Regions from separate parts of the Homo sapiens genome. Here region 1 is linked to region 2. The links come from fine-mapping of genetic effects on gene expression. Tissue or cell type: monocytes. Region 2 holds a variant in brackets; the other region holds the start of a gene. All regions are shown on one strand. Distances are between the middles of the regions.

Region 1 (8,156 bases), 76 kb after region 2:
AGCACTTATTCATTCAACATATTTTTGATGCCCACTATGTGCCAGGCACTCTGGGATGTTCCCAGTGACAAGGAACATCCCGCACTTGAGGAGTTTTCACTCTAATGAGAATATAAATTCCTCAGGGGCCCGGTATACAAGGCCTTTCCCTTTACATGAACCTGAGCCCACCTTTCTCCCACCTTGTGGTTTCCCAATCAGATAATAATTATAAGCATTTATTGAGTGTTTCTTGCATGTAGGTGCTATATTTGATGCCCTCATTTAATATTTATTGCAATTCCCTTGAGGAGGGTACCACTATTATCCCTAAAACATCTTCTAAAAGGAGGCTTTTGGCTGAGCGTGGTGGACTCAGAACTACATGCATTGCATTGTTGACAGTTGTTTATATATTGGTGTTTTGCACTCTGAACTCCATGAGATCAGGGACAAGTTCTGTTTTTGTTTTTATTTCCTCATCTTTTGAATATTTATCTGTATGCCTAGCCTATAGAAATAAAGAACAATGAAGTAATTTTCCTTGTGTCTTTGTCCCGTTGAGGCTGTTCTGGTACTCTTGAAAACACTATTCCAATGATTTTACTTTTCCTTATAGGATCAGATGATAGAAAACCTTTAAATATTAGCTATAACCAAGAAGAGGCAATGAAGATACATATAATTGCCAAAGAACCCTCTGCTAAAAGTTAAGAATGGTTTCACGTGGCCAGGTGCGGTGGCTCACACCTGTAATCCCAGCACTTTGGGAGGCTGAGGTGGGCAGATCACCTGATGTTGTCAGGAGTTTGAGACCAGCCTGACCAACATGGAGAAACCCCGTCTCTACTAAAAAATACAAAATTAGCCAGGCATGGTGGTACGTGCCTGTAATCCTAGCTACTTGGGAGGTTGAGGCAGGAGGATTGCTTGAACCAGGGAGGCAGAGGTTGCAGTGAGCCGAGATTGCACCATTGCACTCCAGCCTGGACAGCAAGAGTGAAACTCCGCCTCAAAAAAAAAAAAAAAAGAATGGTTTCACACTTTTCAAAATACCAAAGAAGCTGCTCTCTGTCTTTATAAACTATACCTTGGCCTATAGAGAATTGTTCTTGGGAAGACCGTTCACTCCTCAGGATGGGGATCTTGCCAAGGGGTTTTTAGGATTATCTACTGCTCCAGATACTCAGGAAGTATTCTGAATTTAGGATACAGCTAAAACTCATTAACTTTAGGTACTACCACTTCATTGCTACTGATGAATTTAGGTTTACATTTACCTTTGTTTAGCAAATGTTTCCCTGTGCCATATTTCAAATTAATTTTTTTTTTTTGAAACGGAGTCTGGACCTGTGCCCCAGGCTGGGGTGCAATGGCGTGATCTTGGCTCACTGCAACCTTGGCCTCCGGGGTTCAAACAATTCTCCTGTCTCAGCCTCCTGAGTAGCTGTGACTATAGGTGCCTGCCACCATGCCCAGCTAATTTTTGTATTTTTAGTAGATATAGGGTTTCACCGTGTTGGCCAGGCTGGTCTCAAACTCCTGACCTCAGGTGATCCACTTGCCTTGGCCTCCCAAAGTGTTGGGATTACAAGCATGAGCCACTGCACCTGGCCCCAGATGAATATTTAAAATATTCAAGAATACAATTTACCTTTCAGCACCTTGGAACACTTTATAGCCATCTCTGGTTGCACAAAAGCAATTTTAACACATTATCTTCTTGAATGAACTTTGGCTGAGGTTGAATTAAGTGGGCAACTGAGTGATAAATTTAATAATTCAGATCTTTGCTACATTCCTCTTCTAGCAGTTGGGATGAAATGAGGAGTGGAAAAAGTGCATGGCAACAAAGACGTCACTAAAAAAATATTTGTGGATTAAATAAACCAATAATTTTTTCTTCTTGCAAGATAGATGAACAGAAATTCATTGTTTAGCAAGGTCTGCCAAGCATACATTTTTAAGACCTTCTTGAAGCTGACTATTTAACACTTTCAACTCTGGCACCATGATTCTTGACTCCTACTTTGTTCTTGTTACTATGGCCACATGCTCAGCTGTCACCTAAGATGCTCTTAGATCTTAAGAAGAGCAGATGTATGCCCCACCTGTACATTTACTCATTTAACACATGTGCTGAGAGTTTACAGGGGCCAAACACTCACGTAGGCATAGGGATATCTGAGAAAAAACCAAAAACCAAAAACCAAATTTGCTGTACACATGAAGCTTACATGGAGCTCACATTTGTGCGTGTGTGTGTGTGTGTGTGTGTGTAGACAATAAGCATAATAAATCATAAAATATATAGAATGTTATAGCCAGATGCGGTGGCTCACACCTGTAATCTCAGCACTTTGGGAGGCCGAGGCAGGTGGATCACTGGAGGTCAGGAGTTCTAGACCAGCCTGGCCAACATGGTGAAACCCCATCTCTACTAAAAATACAAAAAATTAGCTAGGTGTGGTGGCGGGCGCCTGTAATCCCAGCTACTCTGGAGGCTGAGGCAGGAGAATTGCTTGAACCTGGAGGATGGAGGTTGCAGTGAGCCGAGATTGTGCCACTGTACTCCAGCCTGGGCAACAGAGTGAGACTCCATCTCAAAAATAAATAAATAAAAAAGAATGGTGCCAATAGTAAGAGCAGTTCCACTCACCAGAACTCAAAACCAGTATTTCTATGGGCTTCAGCTTCCTCATCTGTAAAATGGAGCTATAACATATTTTGTAGTATTGTTTTTTTGTTTGTTTGTTTTTGCTGCTCCAGTCAACGAAAGAGACACACTTTATTGAGGCTCCAGGGAGGCTGCCGTTCGAGGAAGGAAGAGCCTTGACCTTCTTGGGTTACAGGTTGTTGGTGTGGTCACACCTCTTGCAGCAGTTGACAGCACGGGGGTGCAGGCAAGCATAGCACTTGCGGCAGATCATCTTGTCACAGTTGTATTTCTGGGAGAGCTGGCAGAGGGAAGGCTCAATAATGCCACCTTACAGGCGCAGCACCAGGTGCAGGGTGGACTCTTTCCAGATGTTGCAGTCTGAGAGAGTTCGGCCATCCTCCAGCTGTTTGCCAGCAAGTATCAGATGCTGCTGGTCAGGTGGGATACCTCCTTGTCTTGAATTTTGGCTTTGACATTCTCAATGGTGTCACTTGGCTTGACGTCAAGAGTGATGGTCTTGCCCGTGAGGGTCTTCACAAAGATCTGCGTCTCTGCGTCTGCAGCTCAGTTGCCTTGCCGAAGAAAAAGATGACGGCAGATATTTTGCAGTATTGAGAGGATTAGAAATGAAATATGTTTGCCAAATGTCACAGTCTCTAATTGTAGGCCTCTTTACATAGTAGCTATTAATAGAGGCACATCTGCTCTTGTACAAGTAAGTGAACAATGTGTGCTGGACTGGAAGTAACTCTCTGGGAAATTTAGGACAAAAGGGGACTAGGGCCCAAAGAAGGAATGAGTCATCCAGCATACCTAGCTACCTATTGCTGACAAAAAGCTTTACTAATACCCAGTTGGAGATGAATAGGATGTGAGCTCTGGATCCGCTGATGTATTTATATATCCTTCCATTGCATGGCTTCAGTTCTTCCCAACTAAACCTCTCCTTATCTTTTTTTATTTTATTTTTTATTTTTTTGAGACAGGGTCTAGCTCTGTCACCCAGGCTGGAGTGCAGTGGCGTGATCTCAGCTCACTGCAACCTCTGCCTCCTGGGTTCAAGCGATTCTCCTGCCTCAGCCTCCTGAGTAGCTGGGATTACAGGTGCCTGCCACCATGCCTGGCTAATTTTTGTATTTTTAGTAGACACGGGGTTTCGTCATGTTGGTCAGGCTGGTCTCGAACTCCTGATCTCAGGTGATCCGCCCGCCTCGGCCTCCCAAACTGCTGTAATTACAGGCGTAAGCCACCGCGCCCGGCCAAATTTCTCATCTTTATGAAACACTCAAGAGAAACCTGTTAACAATAATGAAAATTATCAGCATGCTATGTGCCAGGCACTTTTATGAATATAAATCCCCTTAATCCTTCAATGAGCCTGCATGGCAGGTATTACAATCATCCCGTTACAGAAGGGATATTTGAGAGACGGCCTACAGGGTGGACTCAATAATGTGGCAGCTGGCCGGGTGTGGTGGCTCATGCCTGTAATCCCAGCACTTTGGGAGGCTGAGGCTGGTGGATCACCTTAGCTCAGGAGTTCGAGACCAGCCTAACCAACATGGTGAAACCCCGTCTCTACTAAAAATACAAAAAGTTGCCGGGCGTGGTGGCGCGCGTCTGTAGTCCCAGCTACTCAGGAGGCTGAGGCAGGAGAATAGCTTGAACCCAGGCAGCGGAGGTTGCAGTGAGCCGAGATCATGCCATTGCACTCCAACCTGGGCTGGTGCAAGACTCTGTCTCAAAAAAAAAAAAAAAAAAAAAAAAAGTGGCAGCTGTCGTGGTGCTCAGTGGGCGAGCAAGCACAGGAGGACACCTGGTCAAGTGTACCCCATCTTTCACGGTCCCTGAGTTGGGGTTCGTGCCTACTGGATTGACAGAAAAGAAACTTCCAGGAGTCGTGAAGACTCGTTAGTTGCTTCGGAGGGTTATCCTGGGCGTCCTTGACAGAGGTGGCGTCCTCCTTCCCTGCAGCCTCTAAAGAATGTAGTTAGGAGCCAAGGGAGGTGGTGACCCCCCACCCCATTGAGAACGTCAGGGGAGCTTCCGACTTGAAAAACTAGTTAGACGCTCAGCTTCGGTCAATTAAGCTTATACAAAGAGGGGCGGTGCGTCCTGAGGAGGTGGCACGGGGGAGGCGAGCGGAAGTCCGCCAGCCGCCGATTGGCTGGGACAAATGTCCGTCCCGCCTCCCTCCCGCCCCATCTCCCGGTGGCCTAGCGGCGCGGCCCGCGGGCGCGCTGAGGAGGCTGGCGGTGCCAGACTGGCAGGGGGCGTGACCCGAGGAGGCGGGGCGGGGGGGCGTGTCTTGCCTGGCCCCGGCGCCGGGCTCGTCACGGTTTGCGGCTCCGCCCCCGAACCCCTCCTCCTACGCGGCTCTCCTCCTTCCCGCTCGGTCCGCCGGTTCGCTCAGTTCTAGCTTCAGGTTCCACGCCGCGGCCTCGCTCTCCTACTAAAGCCAGCCCAGCAGTCGCAGCGCGCACACGCACGCCCCGCGTCTCCCGCGCCCGGCGCCCGGCTCTCCCCACGCGCGCACACCTCGCGCACGGACGCACCCACGTTTGTCCTCGCGCGCCGGGGGCTCGGCGGCGGCGGCAGGGGCAGCGGCAGAAGCAGGCAGACCGCGCGGGGCAGTACCGTAGCGGCCGTCACGGGCTGGCCGGCCGGCCATGGAGGCTGATGGGGCCGGCGAGCAGATGAGACCGCTACTCACCCGGGTAACGAGCAGGGTGAGGGCGCCGCGGCGGTGGGGCTCCTCCGCAGGGGGAGGGCGCGGGGCGAGGCAGACAAAGGCGGGGGGCGCGGCGGGCGTCGCGGCTCGGCCACCTCGTCCCAGGCCCGTCGCCCCTCCACCTCCCGGCGGCCGGCGCGCCTCGCCATCCCCTTTGTGTGGCGGCCTGGGGCGCGGGTGGGAGGGGGCCAGCGGCTGCGCTCGGGAGGCCCGAGTCGGGGCGGCCGGCGGCGCGCCGCGGGCATCCTCTGCGCGGCTCAGGCGGGACCCCGACATCCCCGCAGAGGCCGCCTGTGACCCCGACCATCCATCCCTTCCCTCAGCGCTCGCCTCCCCTGTTTCTTAGCGCGCTCCCCAGGCGGGGTCCCGGTTCCGGTTGCCTTGGCGCAGGAGTTTCAGATTAGCCCTCGAAAACCTATCTTTCTTCTCCTTCTAAGGAGGACGGCGGCTCCACCTGTCTCTAGCCCCAGGCAGTGGTGAAGAGCTGGTTGAATCTTTCCCCCTCTTTCCGAGTGTCCCCTCCCGCTCCGCGGTGCGCTTTGTTCGGTGAGTTCTCCGGCCGCGTGGACTGGCCGCGCTCCTTCCCGGCCAAGGCTCTTTCGCTGTTGCCTGCCGGGTCCGCCTTCTCCACTGGCTGGGACCCGGGGAGTATCCTCCTGCCGCAGGCCAAGTAGAAGGAGGAGGGTGTCCTGAGCTGTCTGGTGCTCCTTCTCTAACTCAGCTAGCAAGATCGCGTTTCCTACTGAGACTGGCTTTGATTTCAGGGTTAGAAGAGAATGGGGATGGACTTAAGGCCGGTGTTCCCATTTGTGATGATGGGTGAACGGCCCATGCTCAAGAAGCGGACTTCCTGCTTTCTTTAGAGCACATGCGTCCCCGCAGTTGTCTCTTTCTCCTTTCCAAGTTCGTGACTCAAAGGAGATGGAAGTATTCTAAATTTTCCTACTTCTAATTTTTACTATGCAACCAGCAAAGGCGGGAAGGTTGCAGGGAAAATTGTCCGGTCTTTCACAACTAAGAGGAAAATTACTTCTCCTATGTTTTTATTCAAGAGTTGTCTTTAAAACTGCCTGCCGGCTTTCCCTTTTAACTTTTAGGATTATAGTTAAGGTTATGGAAAGTAGTCATTCATTAGTTCAGTACGTTCATATAAGTTCTCTAACATAGAAGAAAACTCAGTCACCAGACAGTGAAGTCATTTAGCAGTGGTTATTGGAAGATAATTCACAGTGATGGTAATGGAATACTGGAAACTCATCCTAAATAATCTGTAATTATTATTATTATTATTTTGAGACAGAGTCTCGCTCTGTCGCCCAGGCTGGAATGCAGTGGTGCGATCTCGGCTCACTGCAACCTCCTCCTCCCAGGTTCAACCGATTCTCCCGCCTCAGCCTCCGGAGTAGCAGGAATTACAGGCACGCACCACTATGCCCAGCTAATTTTTTGTATTTTTAGTAGAGACGGGGTTTTGCCATGTTGTCCAGGCTGGTCTGGAACTCCTGACCTCAGGCAATCCACCCGCCTCGGCCTCCCAAAGTGCTAGGATTACAGGCGTGAGCCACCGCGCCTGGCCTTCTGTAATTCTTTGTGTAGCCTTTGAATAAACTGTTTTATAGTACTTTCTCTGTGTATTTCAAGTATGATGTTGTCTGTTCTTAAATTTATTTGCAAATTTTCAATTGAGCAGTAAAGTGCATTCGAGTTTTCACGGAGCTGGATAGAAACTATGGTGTGTTCTCAAATATTGCCTGCCTAGCTAGTAGAGAAAGCATGTGATAAGGCCATTGCCCTCCAAGTTATTCATTCATTCATTGTAATAACACTTATTTAGACTAGTGTTTATGCTATTTAAACTATTATTTACACTATTTACTGTAGTGGCCAACAAGGCAGAACCAACTCCATCCTAATATTTATTTATTTATTTTTGAGACGGAGTTTCGCTCTGTCACCCAGGCTGGAGCGCAATGGCCTGATCTCGCCTCACTGCAACCTCTGCCTCCTGGGTTCAAGTGATTCTTCGGCCTCAGCCTCCCGAGTAGCTGGGATTACAGGCATGTGCCACCATACTCGGCTAATTTTGTATTTTTAGTAGAGATGGGATTTCACTGTTGGTTAGGCTGGTCTCGAACTCCTGACCTCAGGTGATCCACCCACCTCGGCCTCACAGAGTGCTGGGATTACAGGTGTAAGCCATGGCACCCTACCCAACTCTATCCTAATAGAAGTGATATTTGAGTTGGGAGACAGATGACAAAGGAATTATTAAACACTGCTGTTAATGACGTGGTAGGGGAGCACTTTAGAAGGGTAAACCTCCTAAGTCTTTGAGAAGATAAGGCTTGGCTACTGTTAACATATATAAATCAATAATAGAAATCAAATACAGTAAACTAGCATATAGTCTACGAATAGAATGGGAGAATAGTAAAGCTGTAGGTTGAACTGATTTGAAAACAGGAAAGAGGAACTATTGGCGTTGATAAAATTAAATCTTCGCTCACCCAGTTTTGGTAAATAAAAGTCGTAAAAGTGAGAGATCATGATATTCATCAGTCATAACTCTAACTCGCAGCAGACTGCTCAGCATAGCCAAAAAAGTAGAACAAATTAATATTCATAAAATCCCATCTTAGATTTGTAATTATGCAAAAAAATGTTGAATAGATTGGTGGCAGTTTATATTACTCTGAAATTGGAGCCCATCTGTTTCATAGTTTAGCCTCTATGGTTGCTTCTGCTCCTAAAATTCTCTAATTTTCACTGATCAGGGTGTTGGGATAG
Region 2 (8,203 bases):
GGCAACACCAGGCACACTGCCAGGGAGTGGACTCCTGTGTCCCCAGATTCAATGATGTTCAGAAAACATGTATTTTATTTTAGTCTTTAAATTTTTTGTTGATTTGACTTGGAAAAGTAAACCTAAATATTTTCTCCCGAAATGTTGAAATAACACAGAAGTATGTGTAAAAACCTGTAACTGCTTCACTTTACCCCTCCCTGCCTCAGGCTTCCCGAAAGTTAGACTCCATTAACTCTGATTATTTTTAGATGCCAAGGTACAGAGAAGACTATGGTCTTCCCAGCATTCTCATAAAAGGGCATGAGCTATCTTCAGGAGGCCCCAGTTAAAAGAGTATATGTTATCTGGACATGACACTAAAATTCCCAAAACCCCAAAGATAACAATCCCTTTCTTTAGAACTGCTTGGATATGTTTTGTATTTCCTCAGTAATGGCGTGCCATTGATTTTGAGAGTTCCGAGGTATATTACCTCTTGGCCTTTATTAAGCTAATTGACTTTTCCAGGAGGCAGTCTGTTTTTCCCTCTTATGACAAAGAGTCAGTCTTTGTGAGTCTAAACATCAGAAATAGAGAAGCATCTTGATTTGGGGAGTTATCCCAGGTAGGGTTCCCTGGGAAGCAGCCTCTGAGATGGAGTTAGTGTGCAGGAAGTGTATGGGGGAGTGCATTTGCCATCCACACCTGTGGAAGGAAAGAAAATGAAGCAAAATTGGGCACAGGAAGAAGTGGAGCTACCACACAGACATGATGAAGGCCACAGCCAACCCCACGGGAGTTCTAAAGATGGGGGACACTTCAGAATTGTCCTACACCGAGGCAAGAGGTCAGGGCCTCTAAAATTTACACACATCAGTCACTGGATTTGGGCTGCCCTGAGACAAAATTGTGACAATTGACGAGGCACCTCTCTTCAGCTGAGATAATCTCCCAAAAAGGCTGTCAGCTGAGGAAATAAGACCTTCAGTCCTGAAGAATGGTCTGACCTATGCATCACAAAAGTAATTTATCTAGGCCAGGCACCATGGCTCACGCCTGTAATCCCAGCGCTTTGGGAAGCCAAGGCAGGTGGATCACCTGAGGTCAGGAGTTCGAGAGCAGCCTGGCCAACATGGTGAAACCCTGTCTCTACTAAAAATACAAAAATTAGCCGGGCATCGTGGTACACGCCTGTAATCCCAGCTACTTGGGAGGCTGAGGCAGGAGAATCGCTTGAACCTGGGAGTTGGAGGTTGAAGTGAGCCGAGATCAAACCACTGCACTCCAGCCTGAGCAACAGAATGAGACTCCGTCTCAAAAAAAAAAATTAGTAATGTAACTAAACCCTTTGCTGTTTTACAGGGAGACCCACAGAGGCCTGGGCTTCCAAGACCTCCTATCTTTTTCATCCTGAGCTAATGCAATAGCAAAGTGCCTTGCAGAACAATCACCCCCAAAAGTTAATTAATTAACTTGACAACCACTTACTGTACTGAATTTTACCATATGGCAGATATTGTTTTGAATGCTAAAGCATCCCAACAGTGAACACAGTAGAGCTTACATTCTACTGGTGGAGGCACACAGATCCTAAACAGAAGAGCTGGTTAGAAGACACAGTATGTTAGACAGTGACTGTTATGGTGCGTATGTTTTTGCTGCCCCCCGTCCCAACAAATTCATATGTTGAAATCCAACCCCCAAGGTGATGGTATTAAGAGGTAGGGTCTTTGGGGAGGTGATTAGGACATAATGGCAGAGCTCTCATGAATGACATTTCTGTCCATATAAAGGAACACCAGGGAGCTTCCTTGCCTCTTCCACCATCTGAGGATACAGTAAGAAGACAGCTGCTGTCTAAGAACCTGAAGCAGGCCCTCCACAGATTTCTAATCTGCGGGAGCCTTGATGTTGGATTTTCCAGCCTCTGGAACTGTAACAAGTAAATTTCTGTTGTTGCTAAGCCACTCAGTCTGTAGTATTTTGTTATAGCAACCCAAGGATTACTATGAAACAGGGAAGGAAGCTAGGAAGTGCTAGGTGTGGTTAGGGGAGGGGTGAGGATTTCCAGATATGTGGAGCACCAAGTACAAAGGCCCTCAGGTGAGGGTGAGCCTGAGGTGTTTATGGAACAGCTAGGGGTCCAATGTGGCTGAAGTAAAACAAAAGAGGGAGAAAATATGCCCTGCGTGGTGGCTCACGCCTGTAATCCCAGCACTTTGGGAGGCCAAGGCAGGTGGATCATCTGAGGCCAGGAGTTCGAGACCAGTCTGGTCAACATGGTGAAACCCCGTGTCTACTAAAAATACAAAAATTAGCTGGGCATGGTGGCGCATGCCTGTAATCCCAGCTACTCGGGAAGCTGAGGCAGGAGAATTGCTTGAACTCAGGAGGTGGAGGTTGCAGTGAGCTGAGATCATGCCTCACTGTCTCAAGAAAATAAATAAATAAATAAATAAAATAAATATGGACAAGGAAAGTTGTGTTTCGCATTTCTTTCTATCTTTTATTTAAAAAAAAAAAAAAAGCTGGAAAAATCTTTGACTATGAGCAGCCCTACTTCTAATGTCTTTAGCTTTCACACTTTTCCCAAAATTATGTTCCTAAAACTAGCTCTGGTGGCAAAGTGCGTGGCATTCTAGGGTTCAAAATCCGTGTAACGTTGACCAAGTTTATTAACCATTCTAAGCTTTAGGGAATAATAACAGTACCCATGTCATAGGATTATTGATAGAATAAAAGGAAGTAATTTATGAAAAATGCTTAGTACAAAGATGAGCAAATAGTATTAATAAGTATTTAATAAACATTAGTTTTCATTAGTAATGCTACTATTATCATCCTCATACTTATTGTCATCACCATTCTTATTATTATTTTATTCATCCTACCTCAAAAAGTCCTCATGGCTCACTAATGCCCACAGAATGTTGTCTGAACTCTACAGCAGGCATTTAAGCCAATCATCTTTTAATGCATCTGTGTGTGTGTGTGTGTGTGTGTGTGTGTGTGTGTGTGACAGAGTCTTGCTCTGTTGCCCAGGCTGGAGTGCAATGGTGCGATCTTGGCTCACTACAACCTCCGCCTCCTGGGTTCAAGCTGTTCTCCTGCCTCAGCCTCCTGAGTAGCTGGGATTACAGGCGCTCACCACTAAACCGGCTAATTTTTTTAGTAGAGACGAGGTTTCACCATGTTGGTCAGACTTGTCTTGAACTCCCAACCTCAGGTGATCCTCCCGCCTTGGCCTCTCAAAGTGCTGGGATTACAGGCATGAGCCACCGTGCCCAACCTTATTGCATCTCAATTCATTCCCTGTATCCCATTACCACCCGCCTGCCCCATACTACAGCCTCAGCAAGCCATTTACTGTTATCCCTCATGCTTTACCTAAGACCACTCCTATTTCTTGGCCTGGCTGTGGCTCATGCCTGTTATCCCAGCATTTTGGAAGGCCAAGGCAGGAAGCTCTCTTGAGGCCAGGAGTTCGAGACCAGTCTAGGCAACATAGCAAATTTTGTCTCTACAAAAAAATTTTAAAAATTAAAAAATCATCTGGGCATGGTGGCACCCGCTTGTAGTCCCAGCTACTCAAGAGGCTGAAGTGGGAGGATTGCTTAAGCTCAGGAGTGTGAGGCTGTGATGAGCCATGATCATGCCACTGTACTCCAGCCTGGATGACAAAGCGAGATGCTGTCTCAAAAATAAATAAAGCCATTCCTTCTTTTTGTATTGCCTTTCTCTCAAATTTCTGGCTGTCAAAATATTACCTGTCTTTAGGACTCAGCTCAAATTAGGGGCAGTACAGCATAGTCTTTTCTTTTTTTTTTTTTTTGAGACGGAGTGTCTCACTCTGTCATCAGGCTGGAGTGCAATTCTCACTGCAACCTCCGCCTCCTGGGTTCAACTGATTCTCGTACCTCAGCCTCCTGAATATGTGGGACTACAGGCACGCACCACAACATCCGGCTAATTTTCATATTTTTAGTAGAGACGGGGTTTCACCATGTTGGCCATGATGGTCTCGATCTCCTGACCTGGTGATCCATCTACCTCGGCCTCCCAAAGCGCTGGGATTACAGGCGTGAGCCTCCGTGCTCGGCCTTTTTTTTTTTTTTTTTTTTTTTTGAGACAGAGTCTTGCTCTGTCACCCAGGCTGGAGTGCAGTGGCCCAATCTCAGCTCACTGCAAGCTCCGCCTCCCAGGTTCACGCCATTCTCCTGCCTCAGCCTCCTGAATAGCTGGGACTACAGGCGCCTGCCACCACGCCCGGCTAATTTTTTGTGTTTTTGGTAGAGATGGTGTTTCACCATGTTAGCGAGGATGGTCTCGATCTCCTGACCTCGTGATCCGCCCGCCTCCCCTCGGCCTCCCAAAGTGCTGGGATTACAGGCAGGAGCCACCGTGCCCGGCCCTTTTTTTTTTTTTTTTTTTTTTTCTCTAATTAGCCCTAGTACTCTAGAAAACAGAGCCCAAGGCAGGGATTAAAGTGCTAATGCTTCCTTTGAGAAGTGCAAACCCACAGCAGCTGGGATGGGGAAAAGGGGAAGTGGGGCAAGAAAAGATGTGGAGCAATATAAAGTAATGTTTTACTCTGTTGT[A/G]CAATATAAAGTAATATATTGCACAATATAAAGTAATATATAAAGTGCAATATAAAGTGCAATAATATAATGTATATATTATATATTAATATATATTAATGTTATATAATTATAATATTATAATACTATATTAAGGTAATATATAAAGTGCAATAATAATATAAAATTGCAATATAAAGTAATGTTTTACTCTGTTGTGCGGGTGCGTGCTCAGCACACAGAACTTCTCTCACATTGAGGTTGTCCGTGGAAGAGAGGAAGGTAGACGAAACCCTGTCTCCCGCTTCCAGTTGGCCAAAGTGTGTTTTTTGTTGTTGCGGTTTTGTTTTGTTTTATTTGAGACAGAGTCTCACCTTGTCACCCAGGCTGGAGTGTAATGGCGCGATCTCGGATCACTGCAACCTCTGCCTCCCAGAGTTCAAACAATTCTCCTGCCTCAGCCTCCGGAGTAGCTGGGATTACAGGCGCCCACCACTACGCCCAGCTAATTTTTGTATTTTTAGTAGAGCCACGTTGGCCAGTCTGGTCTGGAACTTCTGACCTCAGGTGATCCGCCCACCTTGGCCTCCCAAAGTGCTGGAATAACAGGCATGAGCCACTGCACACGGCCCTAATTGGCGAAAGTTTGCTCTGCAGGCAGAAACTACCTTGCATTCCTGCTTGCATCATTCTTTCCTTTTGCCTATCTGATCCTATGCCCTGCAGCACAGCATTTCATCCAAATCCGGAAGCAGTGGGAGAAGCCAGACATTCTGGAAGAGCGTCTGCTTGATCCAGCTGCAGAGCACTAGCCAAGGGGGAGGGCCTAGTTTGTCCTCAGCTGCGGTATGATTGAGGAGGTGGACCATGCCAGAGGATATGAGAAGTCACAAAGCATCTGTGTCCGTGCAGCATCTAAGAGAGTGGGTTCTAAAGAACATAGGAAAAGACCATTTCCTACCACTCACCAGCTGCGTGACCTGGGTAAAACACTTTATGCCAATGTTTTTTCTTTTTTCTTTTACCTTCTTATTTTTAAATAATTCTAAACTTACAGGAAGTAGCAAAAATAGTACAAAATTTCCACTATACCCATCACTCACTGCTATGGACTGAATGGTGTCTCCCCACAATTCATATGTTAAAGCCCCAACCCTCAGTGTGATGGTATTTAGCCTGGTGCCTTTAGGAGGTGATTTGGTTTAGATGAGGTCATGAGAGTTGGGTCTCATAATGGAATTAGTGCCCTTAGAAGAAGAGGCACCAGAGAACTTGCTACCCCCCTGCCATGTGAGAACACAGTAAGAAGACAGCCATCTGTAAGCCAGGAAGAGAGTTCTTATTAGAACCTGATCATGCTGTACCTTGATCTTGGACCTCCATCCTCCAGAACTATAAAAAAAATAGACTTCTGTTGTGTAAGCCACCTAGTCCGTGGTATTCTGTTATAGCAGCCCAACCTGCCATATGTCACCAATTGTTAACATTTTGCTGCATTTGTTTTATCATTCTTTCCTTCTCTCTCTCTCTCTCCATACACATGAATGCACACACATCTAATTATTACAGTTTTCTGAAGTATTTGAGAGGAAATTTATGACATCATGCCCCTTTATTCCTAAATACTTCAGAGTAAATTTCCTATTAACAAGGACATTCGGCTGGGTAAGGTGGCTCACGCCTGTAATGCCAGCACTTTGGGAGGCCGAGGCAGGCAGATCACCTGAGGTCAGGAGTTCAAGACCAGCCTGACCAACATGGAGAAACCCCGTCTCTACTAAAAATACAAAATTAGCCGGACATGGTGGCACATGCCTGTAATCCCAGCTACTCGGGAGGCTGAGGCAGGAGAATGGCTTGAACCCGGGAGGCAGAGGTTGCTGGGCAACAGGAGTGAAACTCCACCTCCAAAAAAAAAAAAAAAAACCAAGGACATTCCTGGCCAAGTGCAATGGCTCATGCCTGTAATCCCAGCACTTTGGGAGGCTGAGGCAGGTGGATCACAAGGTCAGGAGTTCAAGACCAGCCTGGCCAAGATGGTGAAACCCAGTCTCTACTAAAATTACAAAAATTAGCTGGGCGTGGTGGCGAGCGCCTGTAATCCCAGCTACTTGGGAGGATGAGGCAGAGAATTGCTTGAACCTGGGAGGCAGAGGTTGCAGTAAGCCAAGATCACACCACTGCACTCCAGCCTGGGCAACAAAGCGAGACTCCTTCTCAAAAAAAAAAAAAACAAGGACATTCCTTATATAACCAGAAAATAATGATCAAAATCAAGAGATTTAGCATTCATACAATAATACGATTATCTATCTAATCTACAGTCCATATTGACATCTCACCAATTGACCCAGAAACGTCCTTTATAGCAAATTCTCCCCATGTTTGTTCTTATTTGGTTAATGGGAACAATGACAGTGCCCTCTCATAAGATTGTTATGAGAATGACATGGTGTGACATATATAAAACACTCCAATACAGTGCCTGGCTTATAGGAAAAGTTCGACAACTGCTAGCTACTTCTATCATGTTTATAATTTCTTCAGTGAAAACTTTTCCAGTCCCCTTTCCGTCAATTCAGAATCAGCCTCTTCCAACTATATTTTCTTATCAGTGTATTTCTACATTCTTGATTGTACTTTCACGTATAGCCTTTTTTTTTTACAAGCTTTTAAAGACCCATTCCTAATTCCTCTTTGCTTCTTCCAATGGCACCAAGCATAGCACCTTGTACATAATAAGCCTCCATCAATTTTGGCAGAATTTAATTTCTTTGGATGAAGTGGAGGGTTGATTAAGGTGACTAGAGGAAATGTATCTCACAGTATTGCAATAGTAGATACAATTCTGCTTTTAAAGAGTTTATGTTTCATGTCAGGGAGAAATACACAAGTGAAAAGTTACAGAAAATAAGAAGATAACATTATATATCTTAAAACAGCCTCTGAGAAAGGTTTGAAAAGTAGGAGGAATAAAGAAAGAGGAGTTCTGGGAGCTCAGAGAAGCAAAAGGATCACATGGGAAGGAAAATAAAAAACTTCCAGAGACTGCTCAGCATGGCCTCCTCAGCAGAAGGGACTTCACGGAGGCCTGATAAACTAAAGTACTAAAAGACAAAGTTCTCAGTTCTACTTTCCCAAGGCTGTGGATCTGGGAAAACAGTTGAATTACATCTTGGCCTTCCTTGCTGAGATTGGGTTTTGGCCAAAGGACATGAGCAAAAGTGATGTGAGCCATTTCCAGGCCTGGCCCATAAAAAGCTCCCATGTGTGATCTCCCACTATTTCCCATTCTCTAGTAGCTTTGGAGGCCACATGTAGAAGATATTAATGCACAGGTAGAAAGAACATGAGTCTCTGCGTGACTACATGGAGCAGAATCCCCAGCCCCATCAACCCATATTGCTGTGACAAGAATGAGGAATCAACTTTACTGCGTTCCACCACTGAAACATGGATGTCATTAGTTTCAGCAGCTACCATTACATGCCCTGTCCAGTGCACAGTTAGAACTGAAGGCCAGATTCAGAAAACCTGTGTTTATATCCTAGCTGTGCCACTTAGCTACAGGTGAGCCATGGCAAGTCACTTCGGCTCGGAACTGCTGTGAGGATTATATGGAAGAAGACTTTGTAAACTGTGAA

Direction of the effects. Positions count from the first base shown, and alleles are read on the strand shown. Sizes are in standard deviations (SD) of each study's normalised expression.
For the expression in monocytes of the gene that starts at base 5,050 in region 1, allele A in region 2 goes with a lower level than allele G (large effect, 1.3 SD a copy in Schmiedel 2018).

The links. PIP is the estimated chance that this variant, and not a neighbour inherited with it, causes the effect.
Region 1: it holds the start of SLC4A7, and the variant in region 2 is fine-mapped to the expression of SLC4A7 in monocytes (TOPMed, PIP above 0.99).

What each region holds. Positions count from the first base shown.
Region 1 is chr3:27,481,278-27,489,433 of GRCh38, reverse strand. It overlaps SLC4A7 (solute carrier family 4 member 7), which reads left to right and starts at 5,050. Exons shown (of 26, transcript NM_001321103.2): 1 at 5,050-5,367. The coding sequence starts at 5,308. It also overlaps the pseudogene UBA52P4. RefSeq lists enhancers at 4,392-4,521, 5,000-5,776, 5,792-5,851, 5,882-6,091, 6,252-6,311 and silencers at 4,652-5,131, 5,162-5,521, 5,552-5,621.
Region 2 is chr3:27,557,165-27,565,367 of GRCh38, reverse strand. No RefSeq gene overlaps it. Among named protein-coding and RNA genes, the nearest start is that of SLC4A7, 77 kb to the right of the region's middle. The variant A/G (reference allele first, on the strand shown) is at 4,581.